7 linked regions of the Homo sapiens genome follow. The protein of the gene in region 1 purifies or fractionates together with the protein of each later gene. This does not show direct contact. Each region holds a gene or a part of one and is shown in the gene's direction. Other genes may lie near its edges. The genes, in order: TPTE, BZW2, ALDH3A2, LRPPRC, CAND2, OPA1 and UNC45A.

Region 1 (4,209 bases):
TATACGTATGTGTGTGTATGTTTCAGAAAGATGTATTTACTGAAAGTTGGATTCATATAGTGGTATTGATTGTATTTTAAATTATAACTACTATTTGTTTTTCATTTTAAAGGTTATACATATATACATATATATATATATATATATATATATATATATATATATAGACACACACTTTATAGGTACACATATATCTTCATTTAAAAAAATAAAGAGAACAAATGAGCCAAAAAAGTCTCCATATTGTTACCAGTTATTTAAAATTTGATATGTTTATCTTTTTCTATCACACATACACACAATCATACTATATGCTTTTTGCATTTGTTTACATAGTGCTTAGATAGACTGTAATATGCAGATCACTCTCTAAAGATGTATCTATTCAGAATTAAATAAGAACGAATATGAATTAGATTTAAACAAGATCCATATTAACTGTGAATTAATGATTTAGAACAAATTACTTAAAGTTAGTTAACCAGCTAATTTACTTATCTGATAGCTTTAAACAGTGTGCATTTACAATAGAGACTCATCTGAGTAGCCAAACATACTTGTGGACTATTTGAAAAATCACAGTGGATTAGAACTTGAAGTTTGCATACCCTCTTATTCCCTGAATCTCCACTAGAAGATGCTAGTGAGAGACAAATTAATAAAAGTAATAACCATTTTAGGTTCCCCCTAGGAAATAGCTTATGTTGGTGCCATGTAAATATGTAAGATATGTGTTTGTCTTTTTTAGGAAGTTGTGCGGTTTCTAGATAAGAAACACCGAAACCACTATCGAGTCTACAATCTATGCAGTATGTACATTACTCTATATTGTGCTACTGTAGATAGAAAACAGATTACTGCACGTAAGAAGATGATTTTGTTTTTTAGATTGCATTTAATCATAAGTATTTGGTAGTGGCAAGGAATGAATTTAAAAATCCCCATCTTGGACTGGCCCCATTTAGTAGAAGGAGTTAGCCCAGCAGCACAAAGTACCGTATGAAGGATGTGGCTTTGGCAGGACCAATGAAGCTGGAGTGGAAGAAAACCATTTTAGGGAAGATCTGTTCTAGCGATATTAGGTTTAGGAAAATCTTTCTGTTTTTCTTGCCAGATTGTGTTATGAGGACATAGACAATTTAACAAATGAGTCTTCTGACCCATCAGCAGTGGCATGTGATGAGAGCAAGGCTCTAGATGGGAAAAAAGCAAAAAACTGTAGAAAATAGGTTGTAACCCAGTTTAATACCCTGTCTCTCTTGATTTTTTCCTCTACCTGTATACTCAATAGACATTTTCAGGGGGCAAACATTTTGGTCAGCTACATTTGCCTTGTGTGGTTTCTAACTACCCTGAAATAATATAATGAATAGTCTGCTAGAAAGTTAAAAATTATACCTATTAAACAAAAATAAGTTGAGTTTAGGTTATATGAGATGGATAAACCACTACCATCCTTATATTTTTGAAACGCTTGCGTTTATTTTAGAGTGGCAGGAGCAACTTGGAAAGCTCTTTTTGAAGATAGATAAGGAATTCTAATAAGATATGTTAACTTATTCATAACTTCCTCATTTATCATGTTATTCCCTATAGAGATATGACATACATATTATTTATTTTAGGTGAAAGAGCTTACGATCCTAAGCACTTCCATAATAGGGTCGTTAGAATCATGATTGATGATCATAATGTCCCCACTCTACAGTAAGTTTTATGCTAAATTGACTATCAGAAGAGGGCTAAATATATTGGGCTTGATTTTTTGAAAATATTTTAACTAAAAATCTTAAACTTGAAATCAGTCAGATGGTGGTTTTCACCAAGGAAGTAAATGAGTGGATGGCTCAAGATCTTGAAAACATCGTAGCGATTCACTGTAAAGGAGGCACAGGTAATAACATTTTCCTTTTTATTTCTCCATTTCTAAAGACATGTAAATATACATAAAGTACAAGAACAAGATACGTATTGCTATTAATATGTATTAATAATTGTTAGCATTTTTAAATATTAGCTCCAAGACTGAAAGAAGGGAAGGAGAAAGGAAAGAGGAGAGGAGGAAGGGTAGGAGATAGGGAGAGGATAAGGAAGGGAAGAAAGTAAGAAAAAAGAACTAAGGAAGGTTGAGCATATTTTCCCTTGTTTTCCTAGTATTTGGATTTCTTTATTTTTGGTTTGCTAGTTTATATCTCTCAAAATACAAACAGTCTTTAATTTTAGAATATCAGAGTACTGTTATTTAAGGCTGATCTTTTTTATTTTTAAATTAACAAATAAAAAACCAATATATTTATGGTGTACAACATGATGTTTTGATATAGGTAAACATTGTGAAATGGCTAAATCAAGCTAATTAGCATATGCATTACTCCACATATTTTTGTGTGAGAACATTTAAAATCTACTGTCTCAGCAATTTTCAAGTATACATTATTATTAACTGTGGTCACTATGTTGTACAATAAATTTCCTGAACTTATTCTTCCTGTCTAACTGAAATTTTGCATCCTTTAATTAACATCTCAGGCTGGGCACAGTGGCTCACACCTGTAATCCCAGCACTTTGGGAGGTTGAGGCAGGTGGATCACATGGTGAAGCCCCATCTCTACTAAAAATTACAAAACATTAGCCAGGTGTGGTGGCATGCACCTGTAATCCCAGCTACTCGGAAGGCTGAGGCAGAAGAATCGCTTGAACCTGGGAGGCAGAGGTTGCGGTGAGCTGAGATCGCACCATTGCACTCCAGCCCAAGCAACAAGAACAAAACTCCATCTAAAAAAATAACAATAATCATAAAGTAAAAACCAACATCTTCACAATCCCCCAAGTTTTGTCTCCCCAGCCCCTGGTAACCACCATTCTACTCTCTGCTTCTATGAATTTGACTTTTTTAGATTCCACAAATAAGCAAGACATGCAGTATTTGTCTTTCTACGCCTGGCTTATTTCACTTAACATAATGTTCTCCAGGTTCGTCCATATTATCTCGAGTGACAGGATCTCCTCTAAGGCTGAATAGTATGCCTTTAATTATATATACCATATATTATTTATCCATTCATCCACTGATGACATTTAGATTGACTCCATAGCTTGGGTATTATGAATAATGCTGCAGTGAACATGGGAGTGCAGATTTCATTTCCTTTGGATATATACCCAGAAGTGGAATCTCCAAATCATATGGTAGTTCTATTTTTGGTTTTTTGAGAAATCTCAGTGCTGTTTTCCACAATAACTACTAATTTACATTCACACCAACAGCGTACAAGGGGGTTCCCTTTTCTCTTCATCCTCACCAACTCTTCTTTTGTCTTTTTGTTAATGACCATCCTAACAGGTGTGAGGATATCTCTTTGTGGTTTTAATTTGCTTTTCCCTGATGATTAATGATGTTTAGCATTTTCTCATTATACCTCTTGGCCATTTGTGTGTCTTCTGTTGAGAAATATCTTTTCAGGTTCTTTGCCCATTTTCTAGAGAAGTAACTTGTTCTCTTGCTATTGTGTTGTCTGAATTCCTTTTTTAAAAAATCTGTTAACCTATTATCGAATGTATGCTTTGTAGATATTTCTCCCATTCTGTAGGTTGTCTCTTTACTCTATAAATATCTCCTTTGCTGTGCAAAAGCGTTTTAGTTTGATACAGTATCATTTGTCTACTTTTTCTTTCGTTGCCTATGCTTTTCAGTCATATCCAAAAATATCTTGGCCCAGACCAATGTCAAGAAGATTTTCACCTATCTTTTCTTCTAGTAGTTTTCCAATTTCATGTTTCACAGTTAAGCATTTACTTTGAGTTGATTTTTGTATATTGGGTGAGATAGGTTGCAATTTCATTTTTCTGCAAGTGGATATTCAGTTTCCCCAGTATCGTTTATTGAAGAGACTGTCCTTTCCTCATCTTGGATTCTTGGCACCTTTGTTGAATATCAGCTGAGTATAAATGCATGGATTTTTTCTGGGCTTTGTATTCTGTTCCATTGGTCTATATGTCTGTTTTTGTTCCAGTAATATTTAAGGTTGTTCTTAAACTTTGTGAGAACCTTTTAGATTAAGGGAGCCAACAGAGATGCTATATCAAAAATTATACTGGAATTTTTATAGTGTAATGATACGAAGAAGTTGACATTGGTGGGGTGAAAATGGGGGAAAAAAGCCATTTGTAAATCCAACCAATTTAAGTTTAGTTAGATTTTCTCTCAT
Region 2 (4,209 bases), on another chromosome or scaffold:
TGTTCTAGCAATATGCTCCCCTGCTGGCCGTGTTCAGCTCCCAAGGCCAGTCAGAGCTGATCCTCCTCCAGAAGGTTCAGGAATACTGCTACGACAACATCCATTTCATGAAAGCCTTTCAGAAGATTGTGGTTCTCTTTTATAAAGGTATCCATCCACGTGCCACTGCTGTGCTTCTGTGTTTTGCTGAAGCTCTTTGAGAGGCAGAGCAGGCAATGAGGCAGAGGAGGTCATGGGGCTCTGTTTAGAGAGGGACAGCAAGATGCTAATTTGTGAAAGTTTTATTGAGGCAACCATACCATGTAGAGAGAGGAGGCATACACGCCATATATGCGTTGCCTTGGAAACCCTGCTTAGGCCCCTGGGCACTTCTCATTGGTAGATGAACTGGTAATTGTTTCTTGGGGTTGGTGGAAAAAAAATGTAATTATATAAAATTGAGCCTGTTTTTGAATTGTAAGGATTAGCTCTAATAACAATGATTATCAAAATAGTATATATATTATGTTCAGACTCTTTTAGGTACCATAAATCTGACTTTAAAATTACTGAAGTAATTAGCCTTTTTACTTTGTATTTTAGTTACTTGGCCCAGCCATTCTCCTGTTTTCCAAGGGAATGGCTATTTTTAGGTTTTCACATTTACTGTCTTTTCATTGTATTTATAAGGATTAGGTTGCTATGACAACTGGCACTAAAATATGAATGCTAAAGGTTTTAACCGATCCCAATCTGTATACCTACAGCATACAGAAATGTCCTAGGCTATTTTTTGGGCCTACATTTATGTAGTTTTGTGAGGGAGAAAAAGGAACACTTAAGAAGTGGTACATTTTGAACATTATAACATGTTTATTTTATGTTATTATGTTCATAAATATCATATCAGAAAAGTTAAAATAATACCAGCCAAATGTTTATTTTCCCTTTCATGTGTTCCTAAATTTGTCTCTTTTGAATTATATCTTGGGAATTTGGAAAATAAAGGTTTTAGATAAATAATAGCTCTTTTAAAAATGCTTAATAGCATTTCACAATGAATTTTTATTGGCCACGTAGATTCCTCAAATGAATGAATCTTGTCCACAAGTGTTTGGGTGATATTTTACTTTTTCAGGGCACAGAGGTATTCAGCAACAATTATAATAGTCAGGAGGAAAATATGATGGCCACCCATTGCCACTTGAAGTTCAGTAATTGGTATTTTCTCCAACCAGACCTGAGTTGGGTCTTCTTGGATTTAGTCATAAGATAGCAGTGTCCTAAAACTAGGCCCCACCCAATGATACCCAAAGTGATCCACCCATCAGAACCAAACCTGCAAGCCATGTTACCAATTCATAGATGGTACCCAGCAGCCAAGAACGAGAAGTGGGGCCCAACCTTCTGTGGCCACAGCTGGCTCCATTTGTAAAACTGGCAGAGAGACCTATGGGACAGGTTTCACATTTGTTTTGAGGGTGGTCAATTTTTTCCACTACGGAAAACCAAACTGTTCGTAAACTAGTTAGTTACCTGAACATAGTTTGCTTTCTTGTCATATAAAAGATAACCCAACCAGTGTTTCTCACCAATTTTTTTTTTTAACTGAGACATCGTTGTCGGAGTCTCATCTTCAGGAGCACCCTATCGTATTATTGTAATGAAATCACAAAGAATCAGCAAACCCATTGTTACGGGAAATGACATCTAGGTGGCACATGAACTATTAAAATCCTTCAGATTTCTCATTTTAACCACTAATGCCAACCTCCTTTTCCTTTAGACTTAGACTTCTTATAACAACTACTGACAGGTAGTAAAACTGGCTACTTTGAGTTTTTTCTTCTTCATCAGCCCCAGATGCTAAGGGTCAGTATGACCTGAAATTAGAAAATAACTCAAGAAGTAAGCACTAGGAAGTAAAAAGAAGAGGCATGAGCTCTTAGGCTCATTGATTAACTAGGTAATCAGCGTTTAAATAACCTAAAGTTAGTGAGGTCTGTGGCAAGTATGACCTGGCCCCAGGGAACACAGGAAGGGTGAGTGTCAACATCAATTTTATTTCTGCCTTAGTTATTTTTGGAAATGAAATTGGGAAACTTTTTTAAAAATGTAAACCTAAAACACATCACTGAACTAACATTTTCAATACCATTTTCTAGGTAATTTTGTAATTTTCCACAGAATGATATATATAGTCTGTTTTCTTAAGTGAAATGATTCCATGTTTTCTCTGGAGAACATGCAATCCCTGAGGAATGATTGTTCCATACCACCGTTAAGAGCGTTACTGTGTTAACTATGTTTACCATCTTGTCTCTTTTTTGCCAGATTTTTACTTTCACCTTATTTTGTCCACCAAACACTTGTGCACCAGGAGACATGTATTTGATTTGTTTCTGTAAAGATTTGGATGCTCTCATTCCGTGTTTTATATGCCTAGAGGGAGACTTAGTAAACAGTGAGTGTTAAAGCACTCCTTTCCTAATATGCCTAAGAATTACCCAGAGAGCTTGTTATAAAACACAGCTCCCCCAGAGATTCTGATTCAGTAGGGCCAGGGTTGGGCCTGAGAATTTTCATTTTAACAAGTTTCCAAGCTGATGCTCTGACTGTTGTACCAGGACCACTGGTGTAAAGTGTATAGCATTCAAGAAGCAACAGATGCTATGAACTCCAGTGACATGTTCAAGATTATACTTACCTTTGATTTCATGTACATACCCACATTTTACACATATGGAGTAGTGTCTTCTCTGCTTCTTTTACCAAGTTTCTGTGGATTCCTTTTGTTTGTCATAAGGAACGTAGTGCTCTAAAACAAGTTTTTAAAATGTAATGGAAACCGTTGCTCCATTTTAATTTTCATTTTTATCTCTCTCTGACACACAGAGCACACACAAACATATACATGGACACACACACACCTCCCCTTTCCCAACATGTCCAGAACTTGATGATAGCAGAAACTTGGGCATATGATTAGCCATGTCCCCCTTGGCAAATCTAATTACTTAATTGAATATCATTATTGAAAGATTTATAAATCTTTTACATAAATAACAGTGGAATAAAAGCAAATAAACTAAATAATGCTAGTCAGCAAAGAAAAAAGTGGTGATGGGTCATTTTGCAAAGACTCTCTGTATTAAAATCTAGATTTGCATATTTTTAAGGTAGTAAGAAACAGTAAATCCATTGCTAACTTTCAAGCATCACATTATTGACTTTTAAAAATAATTTTCTCTTCTTTTTTCCCTGAAGATAAGTCCCATAGACTCAGCATGGTCTAAAATGTGTAAAACTACCTTGTCAAGTACTGTTATTATCTCTATCATGGGTTTTCTTGTTTGCAGAAATTTTTTAGGTTAAATTCTATCCTGCATGCAAATTTTTCTAAAAGGAGTTTTTTATTCTAGTTCTAAAAAAGGGTGAGTGCCCTTCTCAGCATATATTCCCAGCATTCTTAGGGTAAATTATTTTTGACTTGTGTCCCTATGTGACATTCCTAATAAAAAAATTTCTGAATTTCAAGAGTTTCAAGTGACATAGTTTCAGACTAAGTTTCTAAATAACTAACATGATCTAAAATTTAGCAGTTCTCAAGCCACTTTTACAGTATTGTCTCTTCGATCCTCATGAATACATTAGAACTCTACAAATTGAGAAATATTTATTTTTTCTCATCAAGTTAACAAATTTATTCCTTAAACGTGTGTTGAATCGATACTATAGGGCAGGTCTTTCATTAAATGCTGGAAATGAGATGAACAAAATATAGTCCCTGACTTCCTGAATTTCAGGATGTAGAAGAAAACAAAGAATTACACTCACCATGTCAATTGCTGAAATAAGCCTCACACAGAGGGTGTCAGAAGGGATAGGACCACAGAGGGAGGGCACCTAACTTGTTAAAGGTAATTTGGAGGGGGAGAAGTGAAGGCTCTCAAGGTACATGTATCTCACCAGACATTATGAAGAAGTTGGCCAGATAGAAGGGGAAAACATATATTCCAGTCTCTATGTGCCATCATACAATGTCTTCCTTTCTTACTGTCTTTTACTGTTATTCTATATTCCTAATAGGCATTTATGAAATATCCCACCAAAAATGGTTTCTCAGTTTTAATTAACTCTTTTCCCTACTTTATCCTTAGTGAGGGAAAAAATTGTCTGAATTCTTTGTCCCTCAAGGAGTTCCTTCCTTTTCAGACCTTTCCTTTCACT
Region 3 (3,382 bases), on another chromosome or scaffold:
TACAACAGCTTTGGTGAGGGATATTTTATTAGGCTTGAGTTTTTTTCCTCCAAAGTTCACTACCTGATAAAGTTTATCTTTGGTGATTAGTCATTATAGGGATGGGCTTGCAAAGAGGCCCTCATGATAGCTGCCTTCTCAAAGCAGTTTGCGTATTTTGAGATGAAAGAGGAAATCCGTAATTAAAGTTAAGATGGAATGAGGAAGGCAATTGTGTCTGTGGTGCCCTCAGCCGTTCAACTGAGGATATAACATTGAAAATATTGACCATATCAGTGAAGAATGGGCTTGGAAAAGGCAATGGTAATAGTTGTGTTTATGTTTTGTTTAAAATTTGAAAGGGGGCCGGCGCAGTGGCTCACACCTGTAATCCTAGCACTTCGGGAGGCTGAGGCAGGGGAATCACGAGGTCAGGAGTTCAAGACCAGCCTGACCAATATGGTGAAACCCTGTCTCTACTAAAAATACAAAAATTAGCCAGGCATGGTGGCACGCACCTGTAGTCCCAGCTACTCGGGAGGCTGAGGGAGGAGAATCACTTGAACCCGGGAGGTGGAGGTTGCAGTGAGCCAAGATCATGCCACTGCACTCCAGCCTGGGCAATAGAGCGAGACTCCATCTCAACAACAACAACAACAAAAATTTGAAAGGGGTTTGGCTCATCTTACAGTATCCCAGCCTTAGTGGAATTGGAGATACCAGTTGCATTTGAAATCATTTGGGTTTTCTCAGAAATACCAAGCTGTGCTGAGGAGAAAGGCCCTGTTGATTTTTCTGGTAGTTCACAGACTGCGTTGGTCCAGTAAGCAGAGATGAACACCAGATTTCAAAACCCAGCCCTGTCTGTTAAGAGTGAGGTAGGAACTTTTTGTTTTCTTTCTATATGTAAGGTGGGCCAAGTTGGGGTATGTTTTCAAGGGTTTTTTGGTTTGTTTTTGTTTTTGTTTTTGTTTTTGTTTTTATTTTTGTTTTTTTTTTGCTACAGTTGGAGGCTTAAGGGTTATTGAAAAAAGAATGGGCCGGGCGCAGTGGCTCACGCCTGTAATCCTAGCACTTTGGGAGGCCAAGGCAGGTGGATTGCCTGAGTTCCGGAGTTCGAGAACAGCCTGGCCAACATGGTGAAACCCCATCTCTACTAAAAATACAAACGTTAGCTGGGTGTGGTGGTACGTGACTGTAGTCCCAGCTACTAGGGAGGCTGAGGCAGGAGAATTGCTTTAACCCGGGAGGCAGAGGTTGCAGTGAGCCAAGATTGTGCCACTGCACTCCACCCTGGGTGACAGAGCAAGACTCCGTCTCCAAAAAAAAAGAAAGAAAAAAGAATGTTTAACTTACTTATCTCTAGACATTTTGGACCTGGGCCCAGAGTATCAGGGTGTTAAAACTCCACTTATCCACAATTTTAAAAGGGTGAAGTGACTTGCTAGGAATCTAAGAGAAGTGTGCAGAGGCAATGGCTTAGCTGCGTCCAGGTGAAGCATACATCATTTCTTGGAAAAGGGCAGCTGAGTGTGAGCCTCATTTCTCTTCCCCTTCTACTCAGCTCTCCTGGGGGAGGTGCCAGCTGACTAATTCAGACTTGTCACCATCTAGGCACTGAACTCTTTATGTCATAATTTAAGAATATGTTTTTTAAATCACTAAGTAGTTTTGATTTGTTTTCATTTTTAAAAAAAGGTTTGACTTTGGAATTCATGGCAGCAAATGTCGTGAAATCAAGGTGTAGTATACAATTTAGGGGCTACTTTCTTTGCCTTCCTGAGGCTGGAGGTGTGGTCGGAAGCTTACTTGGGTCTCTGGTCAATATCTGTCTCTTTTGTTCTTTTCCCAAGACCTCGGTTCCTCAGTTTGATAATGCATCTTGGTAGGATAGAATATTTTAGCCTCATGGAAAATACGGAGGCCCAGGCTGAGTCTGCATTCTCCAATCTTACCAAACCCCCAAGAAGCCTCCCTCAGGTGCAGTGCAGTGTGCCAGGCAGGTTCGAGTTCCCAAAGGGTTTGGCAGGCATGTTTCTCTGTGAGGGTCTAGAGAAGCAGCAATATATAAAAGAAGCAGCAATATATAAAACCTTTAGCAGAAACAAAAAAATGTGGTTTGATTCCTGGCTCAATGAACTTGGGCAAGGCCTTTTCTGAGCTCTTTCTTGGGCCTCAGCTTGCTCATCTACAGGGTGAGGGAGTAGGTGTCAGTGATTCCCCAGGCCACTTTCAACCCTTCCGCTCAATTCTCATTACTAATAGTTGTTAATATTTCTTTGGATTCAATCTGGAACTAGGTAGAGATTTGGTTTTCTTTTCCACTTTGCTGCTTTTCTGCTCCTTTCTGAGCTTTTAATCCTCTTTTTATCAAATTACCTTTTATTTAAAATAAATGACTTTGAATCTGTACTGTATATTTACCTGAATAGTCTATTTATTGTAATTACATTTTTCTGAAATGGCTTTTATGTACTTAATAGTTTCCTTATTTTGTTACACTCTTGGATTTTATTTTATTAATTACCTTACTAGAATTAGAAGGGATTTAGAGCAGAAGTATTGTACACAAAGTAAAGTTCCAATAAAGCTTATAAGCTACAGAAGGCATTGTGGGAGATGTGGGTTTTAAAAGGTCGAGAAACATAAGAGGTTAATGTTGATAAATTTCATTAGGCCTTTGACAACTAAATATGACATTTGAACCTTGAGATTGCAGCAGCCCTTCCTCAGTCTTCAATAGGAAGGATTAAATTCAGTACTACTTTTGAATTTTAGAAACAAAATTGTATACCAGTTTTTGAATTCCATGTAGAGACTTCAGCTTCCTACTGAAAATGCTAGGATAATAAGTTAGTACTCTCATCTTCTGTCTCTACTCTGACATTAGCTAGTTGACAGTGGACAGAATATAGCCTTCATTATCACGTTGTCTTACTCTTATTGTTATTGTTGTTTTTTGAGGAAGGGCATAATCCTTTGGCCTAAACCGTGCTTCCTAGGCTTCCTAGGGATATGTAGTCCTTTTTTGTACAATGCATGTAGAGTCTCTTCAGACAGGAGGTGTCTGAGTCCCAGTGCTGAGCTTGTGTTGCAAGGCTGGTTGTGGGTAGGTTTTTAAAGCAGCTGAGTAAACTGAATCCTTTTTTCCTCTCTCCAGGCAGAATATTACTGAAGAATGATCCTGTTCAACCTCCTAGTGCCTCTACTGAATTATTCCTCTTTTAAATGGTTAATGAACCAATAATTTTTAAATCATACCAAAAATAGTAAGAAAATATGCAAACACTCTGTGATCAAACTTAAAAGTCATTGCCATTCATCATTAATAAAAGTTGCCATTTCAACTACGTCCCAACATTCCCTAATAGGGTATTCAGGGAACCTGTCTTAAATTGTGCTT
Region 4 (4,209 bases), on another chromosome or scaffold:
AACATCATACAAACATTTCAACTTCCGTGGGTTATTACAAATTAGGAAACAGGGTTAGAAGTATAATTTATTCAAGACCTCAAGTTGAGATTCAACTCCAGATACCGTGATTCCCGTTTCTGAAATGTTTTACATATGTTGCAACATATGTTACAAGTGTTTTACATATGTTACACATTTGATCTTGTCATTTTCCTGTTTACAGTTAACTGCCATGGTAGTTATCATTGGGTGCAGAATGAGGTCCAGACTGTTGTGTTTTAGATGGTGAAGGGATTACTTATGGACAAAAACATTTTTTAAAAGGCAATATATGATATAAACTTGGGATTTAAAGACTTTCACAGGTAAGTAAACATAGAAGATCTCAGAATGTATCTGGAAGGGATCTTCATAGATTCTGAAGAGTGTCCATGTCACATTATCGGTCCCAATCTGGTTAACTGACTTTGCATTACTTCCTCCATAGGTGAGACACAGGAGACATCCCATTTGACTGGAGGATCCTGGGAGATGGAAGGGAAATCTCGATAGGTGGAAAGGAGTGGATTGGTATTTCAGGCCAGAAGGTTGTTATAAAGTGTAGAAGGGTGGCTAGTAGCTTTTTTAGTCTAAAATTCTGTGATTTACCATAAAGCATAAAACTGGGGCAGCTAAATTTGTCAAAAGTTTTTGGAGAATTCAGTTCTTAGAGGGAGAAAGTTCATTGTGACTTAGTTTTATAAAAGATTTTTTAGGCCAGGCCCAGTAATCTCCGCACTTTGAGAGTCTGAGGCAGGAAGATCACTTGAAGCCAGGAGTTCAAGACCAGCCTGGGCAACATAGTGAGACTCCTGTCTCTAGAAAAAAAGAAATTAGCCAGCTGTGGTGGCATGCACCTGTAGTCCTAGCTACTTGGGAGCTGAGGCTGAGGTGGGAGGATTGCTTGAGGCCAGGAGTTCAAAGCTGCAGTGAGCCATAATTGCACCACTGCACTCCAGCCTGGACAACAGAATGAGACCCTGTCTCAAAAAAAAGATAAAGGAAAGATATTGTAAAAACTCAGAGGCATTTGGTCAGGCGTGGTGGCTCATGCCTGTAATCCCAACACTTTGGGAGGCTCAGGCGGGCGGATCACGAGGTCAGGAGATCGAGACCATCCTGGCTAACATGGTGAAACGCCGTTTCTACTGAAAAAAATAACAAAAAAATTAGCTGGGCGTGGTGGCGGGTGCCTGTAGTCCCAGCTACTCCGGAGGTGACAGAGCGAGACTCCATCTCAAAAAACAAACAAACAAAAACTCAGAGGCATTTATTGAGCACCTTCTATAATAAGACAGCTATTGTTTATTGAGCAGTGGCGTCTCTTTTCTTTCTTGTTAGACGGAGTTTCGCTCTTACTGCCCAGATTGAAGTGCAGTGGCGTGATCTCGGCTCACTGCAACCTCTGCCTCCCAGGTTCAAGCGATTCTCCTGCCTCAGCCTCCCAACTAGCTGGGATTATAGGCATGCGCCACCATGCCTGGCTAAGTTTGTATTTTTAGTAGAGATGGGGTTTCTTCATGTTGGTTAGGCTGGTCTAGAACTCCCGACCTCAGGTGATCCGCCCGCCTTGGCCTCCCAAAGTGTTGGGATTACAGGCATGAGCCACTGTGTCCAGCTTTTTTTTTTTTTTTTTTTGAGACAGAGTCTCTGTCTCCCAGGCTGGAGTGCAGTGGGGCGATCTTGGCTCACTTGCACCCTCTGCCTCCTGGGTTCAAGCAGTTCTCCTGCCTCAGCCTTCTGAGTTGCTGGGATTACAGGCACCTGCCACCATGCCCGGCTTATTTTTGTATTTTTAGTAGAGATGGGGTTTCACATGTTGGCCGGGCTGGTCTCGAACGGACTTCAAGTGATCTGCCTACCTCGGCCTCCAAAAGTGCTAGGATTACAGGCTTGAGCTACCGTGCCTGGCCCGTTGTTTCTTTTCTTAATTACATTTACCATAATTAATATTTTTAAAGGTCTAATTTATTAGATTTATTACTAGATAAGAATATTCTAGCCAGTGCCTTATACATAGAAAGCACTCAGTAAATATATTTTGAATTAATAAATGGAAGAACAGAATTGATGTGATAAGTAAAGAACAATGATAGGATTTTTGAAAAAAGATGGTTTTGAGGATGGTTGATCTGGCAGTTGTATGAAGAGAGGCTGAAGCCTGAGAAACTAAAGATTTGTTGCAGAAATCCATGAGTTCATCAAGAGCCTCAGACATCTAAGCACTCACTAGATGGGATGTAAAGGCTGAGAGACTTTGCCCAATAAAATAATTAGTCTAAGATTTTGAGTTTGAGTTTGTGGGAACAGGGTATTAGTGGAATGGTTGGTTGCAGTGGAGAAATTTGAAGGGAATACCAACCTTTTTTTTTTTTTTTTTTTTGAGGAGTCTGGCTCTGTCGCCCGGCCTGGAGTGCAGTGACGCTATCTCGGCTCACTGCAAGCTCCGCCTCCTGGGTTAACGCCATTCTCCTGCCTCAGCTTCCTGAGTAGCTGGGACTATAGGCGCCCGCCACGGCCCCTGGCTAATTTTTTGTATTCTTATTAGAGACGGGGTTTCGCCTTGTTAGCCAGGATGGTCTCAATCTCCTGACCTCGTGATCTGCCCGCCTCGGCCTCCCCTAAGTGCTGGGATTACAGGCATGAGCCACCGCGTCCGGCTCATTACCAAACATTTTTAAAAGGCATTATCTTTTTGCATTTTGGATACATTTAAAACTCGGGAGGCTCCAGCAGTATATAAAAAGAATGATTTACCGTGATCAAGTGGGATTTATTCCAACTGTGCAAGGCTGGTTCGGCATTTGAAAATCAATCCACGTGATCCAGCGTATCAACAGGCTAAAGAAAATTCAAGTGGAATAGTTAAATTAGGGATTGGTGAAAACGTAGGAGATAAATTTGAGTTCCCCATTTTCTACATTACAGTGCAACAAAATAAGTTGAGAGAGCGGCTCTATGAAAACTAGTTTTGTACTTTACAAGTGTGTCATAAAATCCAAATCCCTTATTTATCTGCCATTAGAGACTTTGCACTGTCTAGTCTCACTCTCACTGTCTAGGTTTAATTTTTTACCACTTTCCAGTGTGAACACCCAATTGCAGCCAGATTAGTTTCTTCAATGCCCTTTTGCCACGTTGAGTTCGTTTCAGAATGAGACCGTCTCAGAATGAGACCGTCTGAGTGCTAACCCTGGCCCTATCATTAGCCTTAACTGTGATGACTTTGGGCAAGTTGCTTCAGTTTTTTCATTTGTAAGTTATAATTTTCTCATACCCAGCACAAATTAAACACCTGATAAACATTAGCTATTAATAATGCCTCTTCTGTCTTCTACCTGTATCTACCTTTAAACTCTTGATAGCTCTAAAGTGACACTAAACTGATTCATAATATCAGTGAAGAAGAAAAAAAGTGGAGAGAAGAGTTTTAAGAACGTGTATGGCCTGGGCATGGTGGCTCATGCCTGTAATCCTAGCACTTTGGGAGGCCAAGGTGGGCGGATCGCTTGAGGTCAGGAGTTTGAGACCAGCCTGGCCAACATGGTAAAACTCCGTCTGTACTAAAAATATAAAAATTAGTCGGGCATGGTGGTGTGTGCCTGTAATCCCAGCTACTCAGGAGGCTGAGGCATGAGAATCGCTTGAATCCTGAGGCAGAGGTTGCAGTGACCTGAGGTCGCGCCATTGTACTCCAGTCTGGGTGACAGAGCAAGACTCCATCTCAAAATAAAATAAATAAAAATGGGCAGAAAATACTTCACCAGAAAAGACATATAGATGGCAAATAAGCATACGAAAAGATGTTCAACAGCTTATGTCATTAGAGAAATATAAATTAAAACAACAATGAGATACCACTATCGGAATGGCAACAATCCAGCAAAACGTCGAAAACCCCAAATACTGGCAAGCATGTAGGACAACAGGAACTCTCATTTATTGCTAGTAGGAAAGCAAAATGGTATAGCTATTTTGGAAGATAGTTTGATAGTTTTCTTAGAAAGCTAAACATAGATTTACCATTAGGTATTTACCCAAATGAGTTCAAAATGCATGTCCATACCAAAACCTTCACACAAATGCTTATAGCAGCTTTATTCATAATTGTCAAAAATTGGAAGCAACCTGGATGTCCTTCAGTAGGCAAATGGGTAAACAAATCATGTATATCTACAAAAGAACATT
Region 5 (4,209 bases), on another chromosome or scaffold:
GTACAGTGGCATGATCTTGGCTCACTGCAAGCTCCGCCTCCCGGGTTCACGCCATTCTCCTGCTTCAGCCTCCCAAGTAGCTGGGACTACAGGCGCCCGCCACCACACCTGGCTAATTTTTTGTATTTTGTTTAGTAGAGACTGGGTTTCACCATGTTAGCCAGGATGGTCTTGATCTCCTGACCTCGTGATCTGCCCACCTCGGCCTCCCAAAGTGCTGGGATTACAGGCGTGAGCCATTGCGCCCGGCCAGCTCCATTATAATCTTATGGGACAACCATTGTATATGTTGCCTGTCACTTACCAAAACATCATTATGTGACACAGGACTGCATTTGACCTCGAATCTTTGTATTAAGGTCTACTTCTAGGGGAACCCTGAGGTACTGCCCAAATCCACCAGGGCCCAGGAGCTGCTCAGCAATCTCCTCCACCCTCCCTGTGCAGGTTCATGGCCACCAGCGACCTGATGTCGGAGTTGCAGAAGGACTCCATCCAGCTGGACGAGGACAGCGAGCGCAAGGTGGTGAAGATGCTGCTCCGGCTCCTGGAGGACAAGAACGGTGAGGTGCAGAACCTGGCTGTCAAGTGGTGAGTGTCAGCCTCGGTGGAGCAGGAGAGGGGGCCCTACCTTGTGTGGGAGCATCCTGGGGACCGCTGTCCCTTTGGGGTACAGCCTCGCAGAGGAGACCTGCTGAGCAGCTCTCGTTGAATGGTACCTTAGTCTGAGTTTTCCCAGAAGATGCTGAGACAAGGATTCAAATCTAAGTTTATTTGGGAGGCGCTCCCAGGAAACATGGTAGAGGAGTAGGGAAGTGAGGCAGGAAAGGGAAGAGGACCAATCAAGGGTATGGTACGAAGCAAGTGACCACAGTGGGCCTGATGAGCTTAACCCCATGGGGACCTCTGGGACACAGTATAGGACATGTCCCTTGGACTTTTCCCACTCAAAGGGTAAGGGAGCTGGGGTATTAATCCACCAGCTCCCTGGTAGTCATTGGTTAAGGGCTGCTTCTGGGGTAGGATGGAGGGTTGTCCACTGCCTGCCACCTCCAGCCAGAGAAAGCCCTCAGACAGATGTAAATGCTGGGAAGGTCAAGCTGACACACATCAAGGTGGTAAAGGCTTAAAGGCTGGGTGCGGTGGCTCATGCCTGTAATCCCAGCACTTTGAGAGGCCAAGGCAGGTGGATCACCTGAGGTCAGGAGTTTGAGACCAGCCTGACCAACATGGTGAAACCCTGTCTCTACTAAATAATAATTAAAAAAAAAAAGTTGCCGGGCATGGTGGTGCGTGCCTGTAATCACAGCTACTTGGGAGGCTGAGGCAGGAGAATCGCTTGAACCCAGGAGGCAGAGATTGCAGTGAGCCAAGATTGCGCCATTGCACTCCAGCCTGGGCAACAAGAGCAAAAATTCCATCTCAAAAACAAACAAACAAAAAAGGCTTAGGGCACATGGGACTGGGAGAGGTCCTAAAAGCCCCAGCCTTAGATCACTGTGAGGCTGTGATCCTGAGACGTTGGCCAGTTATCTCGAGTAGAAAAAGACAAGACAAGGGTATGTGCAGAGCACGTGGGGATGCTTGTGTGGTAGGGTCATTCTCACACCCACACCTGAGAACCACTAGTGTAGGGCAGAGGTTGTCAAGCTTGACTGCAGGTTAGCATCACCTGGGTAATTTTAAATAGAATGCCAGGGATCAAGGGACAACAGGGTGAGAGAATTGGGCACTGTCTCTCAAACCACTGTCTGTGAGCTGGGTCCAGGCATTCTTCTGGGGCATGTTAATGAATTTGCAATGTGATCCCAAGAGCAGAGAGAATTCAGTAAAGGGTTTTATGTAGGAAGGTGACATGGACAAGTTTATGAGCTGGGAATGTCTTTCTGGTCATGGAGTAGACTTAGGATGGGTTTCACACCAGCAGAACCAATACCTTTTTATAACAAATAGTTTGTAATACCGTTTCCTATTAGGAAATGAAATTCATACATTATAAAACCTACCTCTACACATAATGCCCTAACCATAACCATAAAGGCAAACTAGAAGGAATGTAGTTTATAGTAATGTGTGTTTCCATGTATGCGTGCTTGGGCACTGTGATGGTAGAAGTGATGAAGTCACGAGAAGCCTGCATCTACACGTGAACTCATCATGAGTACAGATACAGACAGGGGGTGTTGGGGACTCAGGTTTCAGAATTGGAGGCCATTGCTCTTAGTGGCAAGATTTTCTTTTTTTTTTCTTCTTTTTTTTTTTTTTGAAACAGAGTCTCACTTTGTCACTCAGGCTGGAGTACAGTGGTGCAATCTCAGCTCACTGTGACCTCCCCCTCCCAGGTTCAAGCGATTCCCATGTCTCAGCCTCCTCAGTAGCTGACATTACAGGCATGCACCACCACACCCGGCTAATTTTTGTATTTTTAGTAGAGTCGGGGTTTTACCATGTTGGCCAGGCTGGTCTTGAACTCCTGACCTCAAGTGATCTGCCTGCCTAGGCCTCCCAAAGTGCTGGGATTACAGGCATGAGCCACCACACCCAGCCAGGATTTTCTAAAGTGAGTGACCATCTCCCAATAAAGTTTCCCAGAAAACAAAGTAGAATTTTCCTTCAATTTACCTGAAAATTGCATTCTTAGAAAATCTAAAATGTGGTATATTAAAACAATGTAAAAAAGTATTTTGTGTCTATGTATAAAATGAAATTTTAGACTCAGATAATTATAGAAAGGCCTTTTGCCTATACAAATGCCCATTGGGATGTTAGAACCTCTTGCGGGGCATGGACAGTGCTTTGTTTTACATTATTGTCTTTCTGCCGTTCCTGCTTCTCAACCCCTTAAAGGCCAGAAGTACTAACTCAATAGTTTTGATGACCAAGGACCCCCATAAATTGCCAAGGTGGTATTACTCCTAGTGGGAACCAGTGCTATAGGAGGTAGGATGGAGGACTCCATGATTACGTAGATAGAGGAGCTGTGGAGAAGGAAGTTGAGAGAACCAAGGTTTGAAAACCATGGTGCACATGCCTGTAGTCCTAGCTATTCTGGAGGCTGAGGCAAGAGGATCACTTGAGGCCAGCAGTTCAAGACCAGCCTGGGCAACATAGCGAGACACTGAAAAAAGAAATTAGCCAAGCATGGTGGCTTGAATATGTAATCTCATCTGTGTAGGAGGATCGCTTGAGCCCAGGAGTTTGAGGCTGCAGTGGGCTATGATCACGCCACTGTATTCCAGCCTGGGCAACAGAGCGAGACCTCATCTCAATAAAAATCAAGAAAAAAGAAAACCATTGTGCATTGCAGTCACCTGAAGCTCTTGTTGAAACCCTGTATTCCCTGCCCAGGGATTCAGATTCAGGGGATGGAGCAGGAAGGGAGCTGGGGCAGAGGATGAGACTATAGCACCCTGGAATCTGCATTCTGATGCACACCAATGTCTGAGAACCACTCAGGTAGGGCAGAGGTTGTCAGCCTCGACTGCATGTTAGAATCACCTGGGGAATTTTAAAAGCCCTCCCCCAACCCCCTCCAGGCCACATCTGAAACCAATTAACTGAGACTCTCTGAGGGCAGTGCCCAGGTAGGCATTTTTTAGAGGCCCAGGTGATGGCAACTAAGGCCAAGAACGAGGGCGTCTAGTGCCGCTGTTTTTACACTTTCCTGTGCATTGGAATCACCTGGGGACCTTGTGGCGCTACAGATCCTGGCTCAGTAGATCTAGGGTAGGGTAAGGCCTGAGATTCCACATCCTGAACAAGCTCCCGAGTGGCATTGCCAATGCTAACTCACCACCAAACTTTGAGAAGCAAGCCTCTAAGGCAGAGGTTCTCCAAGTGTGCTCCCTGGACCACCTACAGTATCAGCCTCAACTGGGAGCTTGCTAGAAATGCACACTATCAGGCCACACCTAGATATAGCCCTCCTGACTCTGAAACTCTGGAGGTGGGGCCCAGCCATCTGTTTAAACAAGCCCGCCAGGGGATTCAGATGCACCCTCAAGTTTGAGAACCCTTGTTCTGGAGCACTATTTGGCCATTTCCTGAGACGTAAAACACAAGAAGAAATGTAGGTTTGGGAGGTCCCAGGAACGATGTTGGCATAGCCAGAGAGTATCTCTTTCTGGCCAAACAGGGGCTCCCCTGATGATCTGAGGCCTTTTCCTCAGCACGTGTGGCCGCAGGAGCATGAGGGGACATAAAGGGGCA
Region 6 (4,209 bases), on another chromosome or scaffold:
GGGAGAGAAACCTACCTTTTACATTGTTACTAGCATCCTAATTGTAGAAGCTGTGGATGATACTTCAAGAAGAAATTAATTTTGTTTTGGCAGGCAGGGTGTGGACAGGTTTCCTTGAAACAGATGAGGCTGGTCTCTTTCCGGTTTGTCATTAGTCCCTTAGTGTTTACTAGAGCTTCTCCTTGACCAACCCTGAATTCCAGTTTTTTGTTTCCCTAGAGCAGTGAAAGTGCCAAAACCCCAGCTTAGCATTTTAACCTCCTTAGCAGCTTCTTTCTGCTTGGTTTCCTAAAATGTGAATGCCGTGAAAGGAAATTGTGCGCAGGATGTAGGGTTTTGTTTTGTTTTGGAGGTTTATTTCTGCAGTTCATTTTTCTTTGGGATTGTGGCACCTTAAGACGTGACTACTTAATAACTCGGAATTCCAATCTTGTCTACTCAACCCAGTGAAACTGCTACACATTTTAAGTTTTTCTCTTGGGCCTTTGCCCTGTGCTACAAATCAGCAAATCCTCTGATGGAAAATAGCTAAACAGCTTTCCAACAGCTGTTTATTGTTTTTAAATTTAGCCTGTTTAGCTAATCTCAGTAGAAGGAATTGTATTTTTAAAGTAAAATAACTATAGAGAAGCTAGAAAGGTGTCAATTAGGCATTTAGAAGTTCTTGTGAAACCACTGACTGTTAATATACATTGCTATAACATTTCTTGGCTGGGTGCAGTGGCTCATGCCTGTAATCCCAGCACTTTGGGAGGCTGAGGAGGGCGGATCACCTGAGGTCAAGAGTTCAAGACCAGCCTGGCCAACATGGCGAAACCCTGTCTCTACTAAAAGTACAAAAAACTTGCCAGGTGTGGTGGCGGGCATCTGTAATCCCAGCTACTCGGGAGGCTGAGGCAGGAGAATCACCTGAAACCGCGAAGTGGAGGTTGCAGTGAGCCGAGATCATGCCACTGCACTTCAGCCTGGGCGACAGAATGAGACTCGGTCTCAAAACAAACAAAAAAACAAACAAAACAAAATTTCTTACCCAAATATCACTCCTTGAGTGAAGCCTGTCGTAGCTCCCTTATCATCAGTTCCATTCTCTTCTGTGGCACCCTAGGTTTTGTCACTCTCTTCTATTATGTCTGTGTATATTTCTCCCAGCATGTGATGAGGTCTAAAACTGGGACAGTCAGCTCTGTGTTTCCCCACCTACAACACCTGACACATAGTTCACTCTCTATAGAGGTTGAATGAATGAATTGTCCTTTACCTAAATTCATCTTTGAGGTTAAATGCAAGGTTTCCTTTTAGTGTTTCAAGTTTTAGAGAGATGATTTTGGGCTTAGTGCTGTGTATAGCATTGACTGGGGAAAGAAAGAGGCAGCAGCATTTTAGGTCATAAGCGATATAAAGGAACCAGCATTCTTGTTGGGAAATCACAACATATATGACATATATACAAACAATACAAATACAAAATTATTGTCTTGTCAGAACTACCATGTTGACAGCTTCAGGGGGTGCCCCAGCAGTAGTGTGAAGGGACTCTTGGATTTGTGCAATGCAGTAGCCCTGTCTAGACCACATACGGGCTGTGGGAATTAATATTACTTATAAATACATCATTACCTCTCAGTTTTCTGTTACTATCAGGTGACTCTGAGTGAAGGTCCTCACCATGTGGCCCTATTTAAAGATAGTTCTCGGGAGTTTGATCTTACCAAAGAAGAAGATGTAAGTAAAATTCATCTAAGGTTGATATGTGTAATTTTATAACCTGGATGAGCTTATAAAAGACAGTTAAAGAATATTTGTGAATTAAGATTTTCTTAGATTTTCTTAGGATTTTGTGTTTTCCATTAGCTTGCAGCATTAAGACATGAAATAGAACTTCGAATGAGGAAAAATGTGAAAGAAGGCTGTACCGTTAGCCCTGAGGTAAGGGTTGCAATTCATTTCAGTGACGTTTTATGGAAATTAAATGTTTATGATTTCAAATAAATCAAAATCTAGGTATTGATGTTTAGATTGCTGCTATCTAGATATGTAGAGCTTTTAAAAAAAAATCCAAATAATATATCATTTTGTGGGTAATTTTCCAGAATAATTACTTTTAGGATCAGAGAAAGAATACCATTTTTGTGAGCGTCTTATCTGAATGGATGAGATATAGAATTTTTAGAATACATTTCACCAAAAAAAATTCTTGACAAATTCCCCCCAAACTTTAGCATTGTTTTATTTTTATTTTTCCTGAGTAGACCATATCCTTAAATGTAAAAGGCCCTGGACTACAGAGGATGGTGCTTGTTGACTTACCAGGTGTGATTAATGTAAGTATATACAAAACATGTATTTTATTTTATTCTTATTGTGTGAAGCATTTATAATGACATTTAAAACCTTTTTCTTTAAGACTGTGACATCAGGCATGGCTCCTGACACAAAGGAAACTATTTTCAGTATCAGCAAAGCTTACATGCAGAATCCTAATGCCATCATACTGTGTATTCAAGGTAAATCATATCAAAAGATTTTAATGTACTGATATGTTTTCTTCTTTAGCAATCCAAGCTTTGCATTAAATAGTTTGTGTTATGTAAACATACAAGATAAATGCATTTTTGCCTTCTCTTCGTATTCATTTTATTAGTAAATTAAATTGAAGTTGAAATTATTTTGATAAGTTTTACATAAGCATCATTGAAATTTTTATCGGCTAGGATTTCTTTTTAGTAAATAACGTAAATGTATTAAAATCTTTCTTGCTATAATGTAGACACAGGGGTATAATTTGTACTGAGTTTTAAAAGTCTACTTTACATCTTAAAATTCCACAGTGTCATTTTTTTATTTTTTTCAGATGGATCTGTGGATGCTGAACGCAGTATTGTTACAGACTTGGTCAGTCAAATGGACCCTCATGGAAGGAGAACCATATTCGTTTTGACCAAAGTAGACCTGGCAGAGAAAAATGTAGCCAGTCCAAGCAGGGTGAGGTCAAATTCTTTGTTGCGAGAATAGATTCTTTGTAAAAGCTCCAGCTGTGATAGGGATTTGTTATTTAAAAAAACAACAACAACAACAAAAAAACACCTTACAACTAAGATTTATTACAATGAAAGGATAAAGCAAAATCACAAAAGGAAATGGTACATGGTATGAAGTCTGAAGGAAACCAGGCTCACGTTTTTCCACTAGTTCATTCCCAGTAGACTCTACTGGGCACATTTAATTCCTCCAGCAACAAGCTGCTTGTTAGAGACTCAGCTCCTAAGGTTTTCATCGGAGGTTAGTCATTTCGGCACCCTCATGTACCAAAATTATTTCATACTCCCAAAAGGAAAGCATATGTTATAATTAAACCACATTACTTCAGTAGTGAGCCACTGTTATATAAGGAAAGGTTTATATCAGTGTAGGGAACTGTTTACCAGTTAAGTTTTCAGATACCAGCCAAAGACAGGCAGGCCTTTTTAAGGACAGTAGTCTCAGGCCTGCTGTGTTAACCCTTTTCTAGGTAGCCACCATAACCTCTGTTCTGCTTTCTTTTTAAGGGTAAGGCCTGCCGTGGCATTAATGGTTCTGATATGGAGAAGGGGAGAAGTGAGGTAGAAACAAATTTCTGTGGCCTCCTCCCCATCTTTCTTCATTCCTTTCATTTCTTTCAACTCTAGGATAGTGAGTTTATATTTCTTCTGAGATGCAACTGAAGCTTATTTCAGTCCTTTTTGTATAAAAGATTCAGCATTAGCTTAGGTGTAACTTGTCTTAAAGGAGGGATTCTCATCCCATTATTAATCTGAATGGGCTTCAGGGGGTAGAAACTCTAACATATGTGAAAGGTCTCTATGCAAATATGCATTTTTCTGGGTACATAGTCTTTTTTTTTTTTTAGTCACATTTAGAAATGGATTTTTGATCCTAAAAGAGTTGAGAAGCAGTGGATCCAAATATTAAAGAAGAAGGTGGGAGGGGAGGAAGGAGTAAAAGAAGACAATCCAGCTTGGTTAGAATTTAGATATTTGAAGAAAGTATGGAAAAATAATAATAGCTACCATTTATTGAGTGCTTCATGCCTGGCACTGTATCATATTGTCCCATAATCTCACCAACCTTTTTGAAAAAATTAAGTTGTTTACTTAAGGTCGCATAACTACTAGGCAGCAGAGCAGGAATTCAAACTAAGGTCTGTCTGACTTTAAAGAACTACACATCATT
Region 7 (4,209 bases), on another chromosome or scaffold:
CCTCAGCAAGCTCTTTGATGACCTCAAGTGTGATGCGGAGAGGGAGAATTTCCACAGACTTTGTGAAAACTACATCAAGTAAGGAAGTCTGTTTCACCTCCCGTTGCCAGGGATTCTAGCGAAAAAGTTCTGACTCCTTGAGGAGGGGCAGAAATGAAAGGTTTCCAGCAGAAACAGTAATCTTGGGGAGGACTAGTTGGAGGCTGAACAAAGGGAAAGTGGCCCCAAGGCCCACTTCCTGCTCCAAAGTGGCCTCCGCAGGGAGGTTCTTTCTCAAGTCAATGTTCCAATAATGCAACAAACGCCATCAAGCACGTACTGGGTTTACCAAACACTTCCTACGCTTCTGTTCCCACACAGATGAAACATGACAGTCCTTTTTTTTTTTTTCTTGAGACAGAGTTTCACTCTTGTTGCTCAGGCTGGAGTGCAATGGCATGATCTCAGGTCACCACAACCTTCGCCTCTAGGGTTCAAGCGATTCTCCTGCTTCAGCCTCCTGAGTAGCTGGGATCACAGGCATGCACCACCACACCCAGCTAATTTTGTATTTTTAGTAGAGACGGGGTTTCTCCATATTGGTCAGGCTGGTCTCGAACTCCCGACCTCAGGTGATCCGCCTGCCTTGGCTTCCCAAAGTGCTGGGATTTTTTTTTTTTTTTTGAGATGGAGTTTCGCTCTTGTTGCCCAGGCTGGAGTACAATGGTATGATCTTGGCTCATTGCAACCTCCACCCTCCCAGGTTCAAGCAATTCTCCTGCCTCAGCTTCCCAAGTAGCTGGGATAATAGGCACCCACCACCACGCCTGGCTAATTTTTGTATTTTTAGTAGAGATGGGGTTTCACCATGTTGGCCAGGCTGGTCTCGAACTCCTGACCTCACACCTGAGGTGATCTGCCCGCCTTGGCCTCCTAAAGTGCTGGGATTACAGGCATGAGGACCGCGTCCAGGCGACAGTCCTTGTTCTTAAAGGAGATTATAGGCCAGGTGTGGTGGCTTACACCTGTAATCCCAGCACTTTGGGAGGTGGAGGCAGGTGGGTGATCACCTTAGGTCAGGAGTTCGAGACCAGCCTGGCCAACATGGTGAAACCCCATCTCTACTAAAAATACAGAAAATTAGCCAGGTGTGGTGGTGGGTGCCTGTAATCCCAGCTACTTGGGAGGCTGAGGCAGGAGAATCGCTTGAATCCAGGAGGTGGAGGTTGCAGTGAGCCGAGATCACGCCATTGCACTCCAGCCTTGGGGACAGAGTGAGACTCTGTCTCAAAAAAAAAAAAAAAAAAGAAAGAAAAAAAATTAAAGGAGCTTACAGCTGTTGGGGAGAAAACTGATGATAAATTATGAAATAAGCCGAATCATTTCAGAGCTTAAGTCCAGGAAGGGACATCACTGGTGGTATGGGAGTAACCTGTATTAGATACTATGTCAGGGAAGGCTTGAGTGAAAGTCGATAAAGAAAATCAGCCATTATTGTCCAGGTGGAAACGTCCTAGTCCTCCCATTGGCAGCTTTCCTGCTGTTTCTGCCCAAGTAGTGCAGGTGCCTGGCCAGTGGAGGGGAAGGGAGGGAAGAAGAGTCCCTTTATGTTGGCCTTGGTGTGACGGCTGTCACCCTGTGCCCCTCAGGAGCTGGTTTGAGGGCCAAGGGCTGGCCGGGAAGCTACGGGCCATCCAGACGGTGTCCTGCCTCCTGCAGGGCCCATGTGACGCTGGCAACCGGGCCTTGGAGCTGAGCGGTGTCATGGAGAGTGTGATTGCTCTGTGTGCCTCTGAGCAGGAGGAGGAGCAGCTGGTGGCCGTGGAGGCTCTGATCCATGCAGCCGGCAAGGCTAAGCGGGCCTCATTCATCACTGCCAATGGTGTCTCGCTGCTGAAGGACCTATATAAGTGCAGCGAGAAGGACAGCATCCGCATCCGGGCGCTAGTGGTGAGACGGTGGGCCTGGGGTGGGTGGGCAGGCAGCCAGGCAGGGGTCCTGGTCCAGCCGGTGTTGCAGGGTGTGGCCCCAGCACACTCCAGATGAAAATAAGGAATACTGTAATGCCAAAAAAATTAGCTAGGCTTGGTGGTGCATGCCTATAGGTCCAGCTACTTGGGAGGCTGAGGCAGGAGGATCACTTGAGCTCAGGAGGTTGAGGCTGTGGTGAGTCACGCATGTCACTGCACTCCTGCCTGGGCAACACAGCAAGACCCTCTCTAAAATAAATGGATGAATGAACGAGATTCTGGGCTTTCTTGTGGTGAGAGACATCGGCATGGCTCCTCCCTCCATGGGGCTTAAGACTGGGCCTGCAGGGGTCATGCAGTGTTCCTGGGAGCTGGTGGTTTGGGGGTTTGGGGACTACCTGGCCCTCCATGAGCCTGTTGTGGCTGTGCACCCTGTGGAAGCTGGTCTTCCTCCCTGGGGCACTCAGTCCTGGATTTCTCCATCCCATAAGGATTTGGCTGTGGCTGAAGCACCTGTCCTCTCCCCACATGCCTCTCAACTCCACCTGCAGAGGGCTTCTTTGTGCGACATGGAAGGAAACAGAGCCATTCTCAGTGTGGCCTGGGAAGGGGTGGGGCCCACGACTGTCCAGCGGCCAGCGCATCAGTGTCTGCAGATGCTGTGTCATGCGGCCACCCCAGTAGCTGATTTTCTTGCCACATGCTCTAGGTGGTGGTCTGGAGGGAGAGGGTGCTGATTTGTCTGTGTAGCTTCCAGGGGGCCATGGCAGAGTGCCAGGGAGGGAGTCCAAGCCAGGTGTGGAGGAGCTCAGCTCCTGCCTCCTTCCCCAGAGGCCAACTGGTCTTGCCCTCTTCCTCCAGGGACTCTGTAAGCTCGGTTCGGCTGGAGGGACTGACTTCAGCATGAAGCAGTTTGCTGAAGGCTCCACTCTCAAACTGGCTAAGCAGTGTCGAAAGTGAGTCATCTGGCCTTGCTGTGGTTCCCCACCTGTGGGGTAGATCTCAAGACACAGGGGTCTGGGTGGGGGTTGGGGCCTCCTCCGTCCTGCTCTCTGGCTCAGGCAGGGGCTGCAGTCTGGATCCTGGTACGTGAACTGCTTCTGTACATTGAGGGGATGCCCAAACCCTTGGTTTTTCCCCCTTGGCCTTGGTGTACCCCTCCGTACCCCCAATCCTGAGGGTCGTCCACTATCCTGCGTGTCCCCAGGTGGCTGTGCAATGACCAGATCGACGCAGGCACTCGGCGCTGGGCAGTGGAGGGCCTGGCTTACCTGACCTTTGATGCCGACGTGAAGGAAGAGTTTGTGGAGGATGCGGCTGCTCTGAAAGCTCTGTTCCAGCTCAGCAGGGTAGCTCTGTGGTTCCTGCCGTCAGCCTGGGGACACTGTCTAGGATTAGACCTTACCAGGCTTTCTCGGCAGGGCTTGGCCAATGGGGTCTTTTGACCCCAGGGAAGAGGGCTGGTGGCTGAGTGGCTGCTCTGTGTAGTGTGGGCATGTTGGCCAGCACCAGTGGTGTTAGCAAGGACGTTCTTCTTGGAGGAGCTGGGGAGGTCAAGTTTGTAAGCTCCCAAAGTCTGGGGCCTGGGAGTTTCCCGAATTCATCCTGTACCCAAGGGTCCCAGCTGAGGGTGGAATTGGGGGCCTGGGCCTGGGCAGCATTTATCTGAGTACTGCTCTGCCCCGGGATGCCCATGTGAATTCCTCTGTGTCCTGGCAGTTGGAGGAGAGGTCAGTGCTCTTTGCGGTGGCCTCAGCGCTGGTGAACTGCACCAACAGCTATGACTACGAGGAGCCCGACCCCAAGATGGTGGAGCTGGCCAAGTATGCCAAGCAGCATGTGCCCGAGCAGCACCCCAAGGTGAGGGGCCGCCAGAGGGGCTAGAGGGTTCCCCACCATGGGGACAGCTAACCCAGGGCATCCACAGCAGAACAACCTCCCTTTTTTTTTTTTTTTTTTTTTGAGATGGAGTCTCACTGTCTCCCAGGCTGGAGTGCAGTGATGCGATCTCGGCTCACTGCAAGCTCCGCCTCCCGGGTTCATGCCATTCTCCTGCCTCAGCCTCCCGAGTAGCTGGGACTACAGGTGCCCGCCACCATGCCTGGCTAATTTTTTGTATTTTTAGTGGAGACAGTGTTTCACCGTGTTAGCCAGGATGATCTCGATCTCCTGACCTCGTGATCCGCCTGCCTCAGCCTCCCAAAGTGCTGGGATTACAGGTGTGAGCCACCGTGCCCAGCCAACAGCCTCCCTTTTAAGC

Evidence for each region.
Region 2: the proteins of TPTE (region 1) and BZW2 purify together in Homo sapiens (affinity purification with mass spectrometry, with the first as the bait; 2 studies listed by BioGRID). This does not show direct contact.
Region 3: the proteins of TPTE (region 1) and ALDH3A2 purify together in Homo sapiens (affinity purification with mass spectrometry; 2 studies listed by BioGRID and IntAct, with this or other methods). This does not show direct contact.
Region 4: the proteins of TPTE (region 1) and LRPPRC purify together in Homo sapiens (affinity purification with mass spectrometry, with the first as the bait; one large-scale study listed by BioGRID). This does not show direct contact.
Region 5: the proteins of TPTE (region 1) and CAND2 purify together in Homo sapiens (affinity purification with mass spectrometry; 2 studies listed by BioGRID and IntAct, with this or other methods). This does not show direct contact.
Region 6: the proteins of TPTE (region 1) and OPA1 purify together in Homo sapiens (affinity purification with mass spectrometry; one large-scale study listed by BioGRID and IntAct). This does not show direct contact.
Region 7: the proteins of TPTE (region 1) and UNC45A purify together in Homo sapiens (affinity purification with mass spectrometry, with the first as the bait; one large-scale study listed by BioGRID). This does not show direct contact.

What each region holds. Positions count from the first base shown.
Region 1 is NC_000021.9:10,576,712-10,580,920, forward strand, and holds part of TPTE (putative tyrosine-protein phosphatase TPTE), read left to right. Parts: intron 1-748; coding exon 749-809; intron 810-1,625; coding exon 1,626-1,707; intron 1,708-1,805; coding exon 1,806-1,894; intron 1,895-4,209.
Region 2 is NC_000007.14:16,698,040-16,702,248, forward strand, and holds part of BZW2 (eIF5-mimic protein 1), read left to right. Parts: intron 1-8; coding exon 9-147; intron 148-4,209. UniProt on the Homo sapiens protein: Translation initiation regulator which represses non-AUG initiated translation and repeat-associated non-AUG (RAN) initiated translation by acting as a competitive inhibitor of eukaryotic translation initiation factor 5 (EIF5) function.
Region 3 is NC_000017.11:19,672,419-19,675,800, forward strand, and holds part of ALDH3A2 (aldehyde dehydrogenase family 3 member A2), read left to right. Parts: intron 1-732; coding exon of another isoform or gene 733-816; exon of another isoform or gene 817-857; intron 858-3,139; coding exon 3,140-3,154; coding exon of another isoform or gene 3,155-3,207; 3' UTR 3,208-3,382.
Region 4 is NC_000002.12:43,985,687-43,989,895, reverse strand, and holds part of LRPPRC (leucine-rich PPR motif-containing protein, mitochondrial precursor), read left to right. Parts: intron 1-4,209. UniProt on the Homo sapiens protein: May play a role in RNA metabolism in both nuclei and mitochondria. In the nucleus binds to HNRPA1-associated poly(A) mRNAs and is part of nmRNP complexes at late stages of mRNA maturation which are possibly associated with nuclear mRNA export.
Region 5 is NC_000003.12:12,803,041-12,807,249, forward strand, and holds part of CAND2 (cullin-associated NEDD8-dissociated protein 2), read left to right. Parts: intron 1-447; coding exon 448-591; intron 592-4,209.
Region 6 is NC_000003.12:193,641,124-193,645,332, forward strand, and holds part of OPA1 (dynamin-like GTPase OPA1, mitochondrial), read left to right. Parts: intron 1-1,641; coding exon 1,642-1,722; intron 1,723-1,851; coding exon 1,852-1,926; intron 1,927-2,249; coding exon 2,250-2,321; intron 2,322-2,404; coding exon 2,405-2,504; intron 2,505-2,851; coding exon 2,852-2,982; intron 2,983-4,209. UniProt on the Homo sapiens protein: Dynamin-related GTPase that is essential for normal mitochondrial morphology by mediating fusion of the mitochondrial inner membranes, regulating cristae morphology and maintaining respiratory chain function.
Region 7 is NC_000015.10:90,944,986-90,949,194, forward strand, and holds part of UNC45A (protein unc-45 homolog A), read left to right. Parts: coding exon 1-78; intron 79-1,628; coding exon 1,629-1,929; intron 1,930-2,810; coding exon 2,811-2,905; intron 2,906-3,156; coding exon 3,157-3,298; intron 3,299-3,668; coding exon 3,669-3,809; intron 3,810-4,209.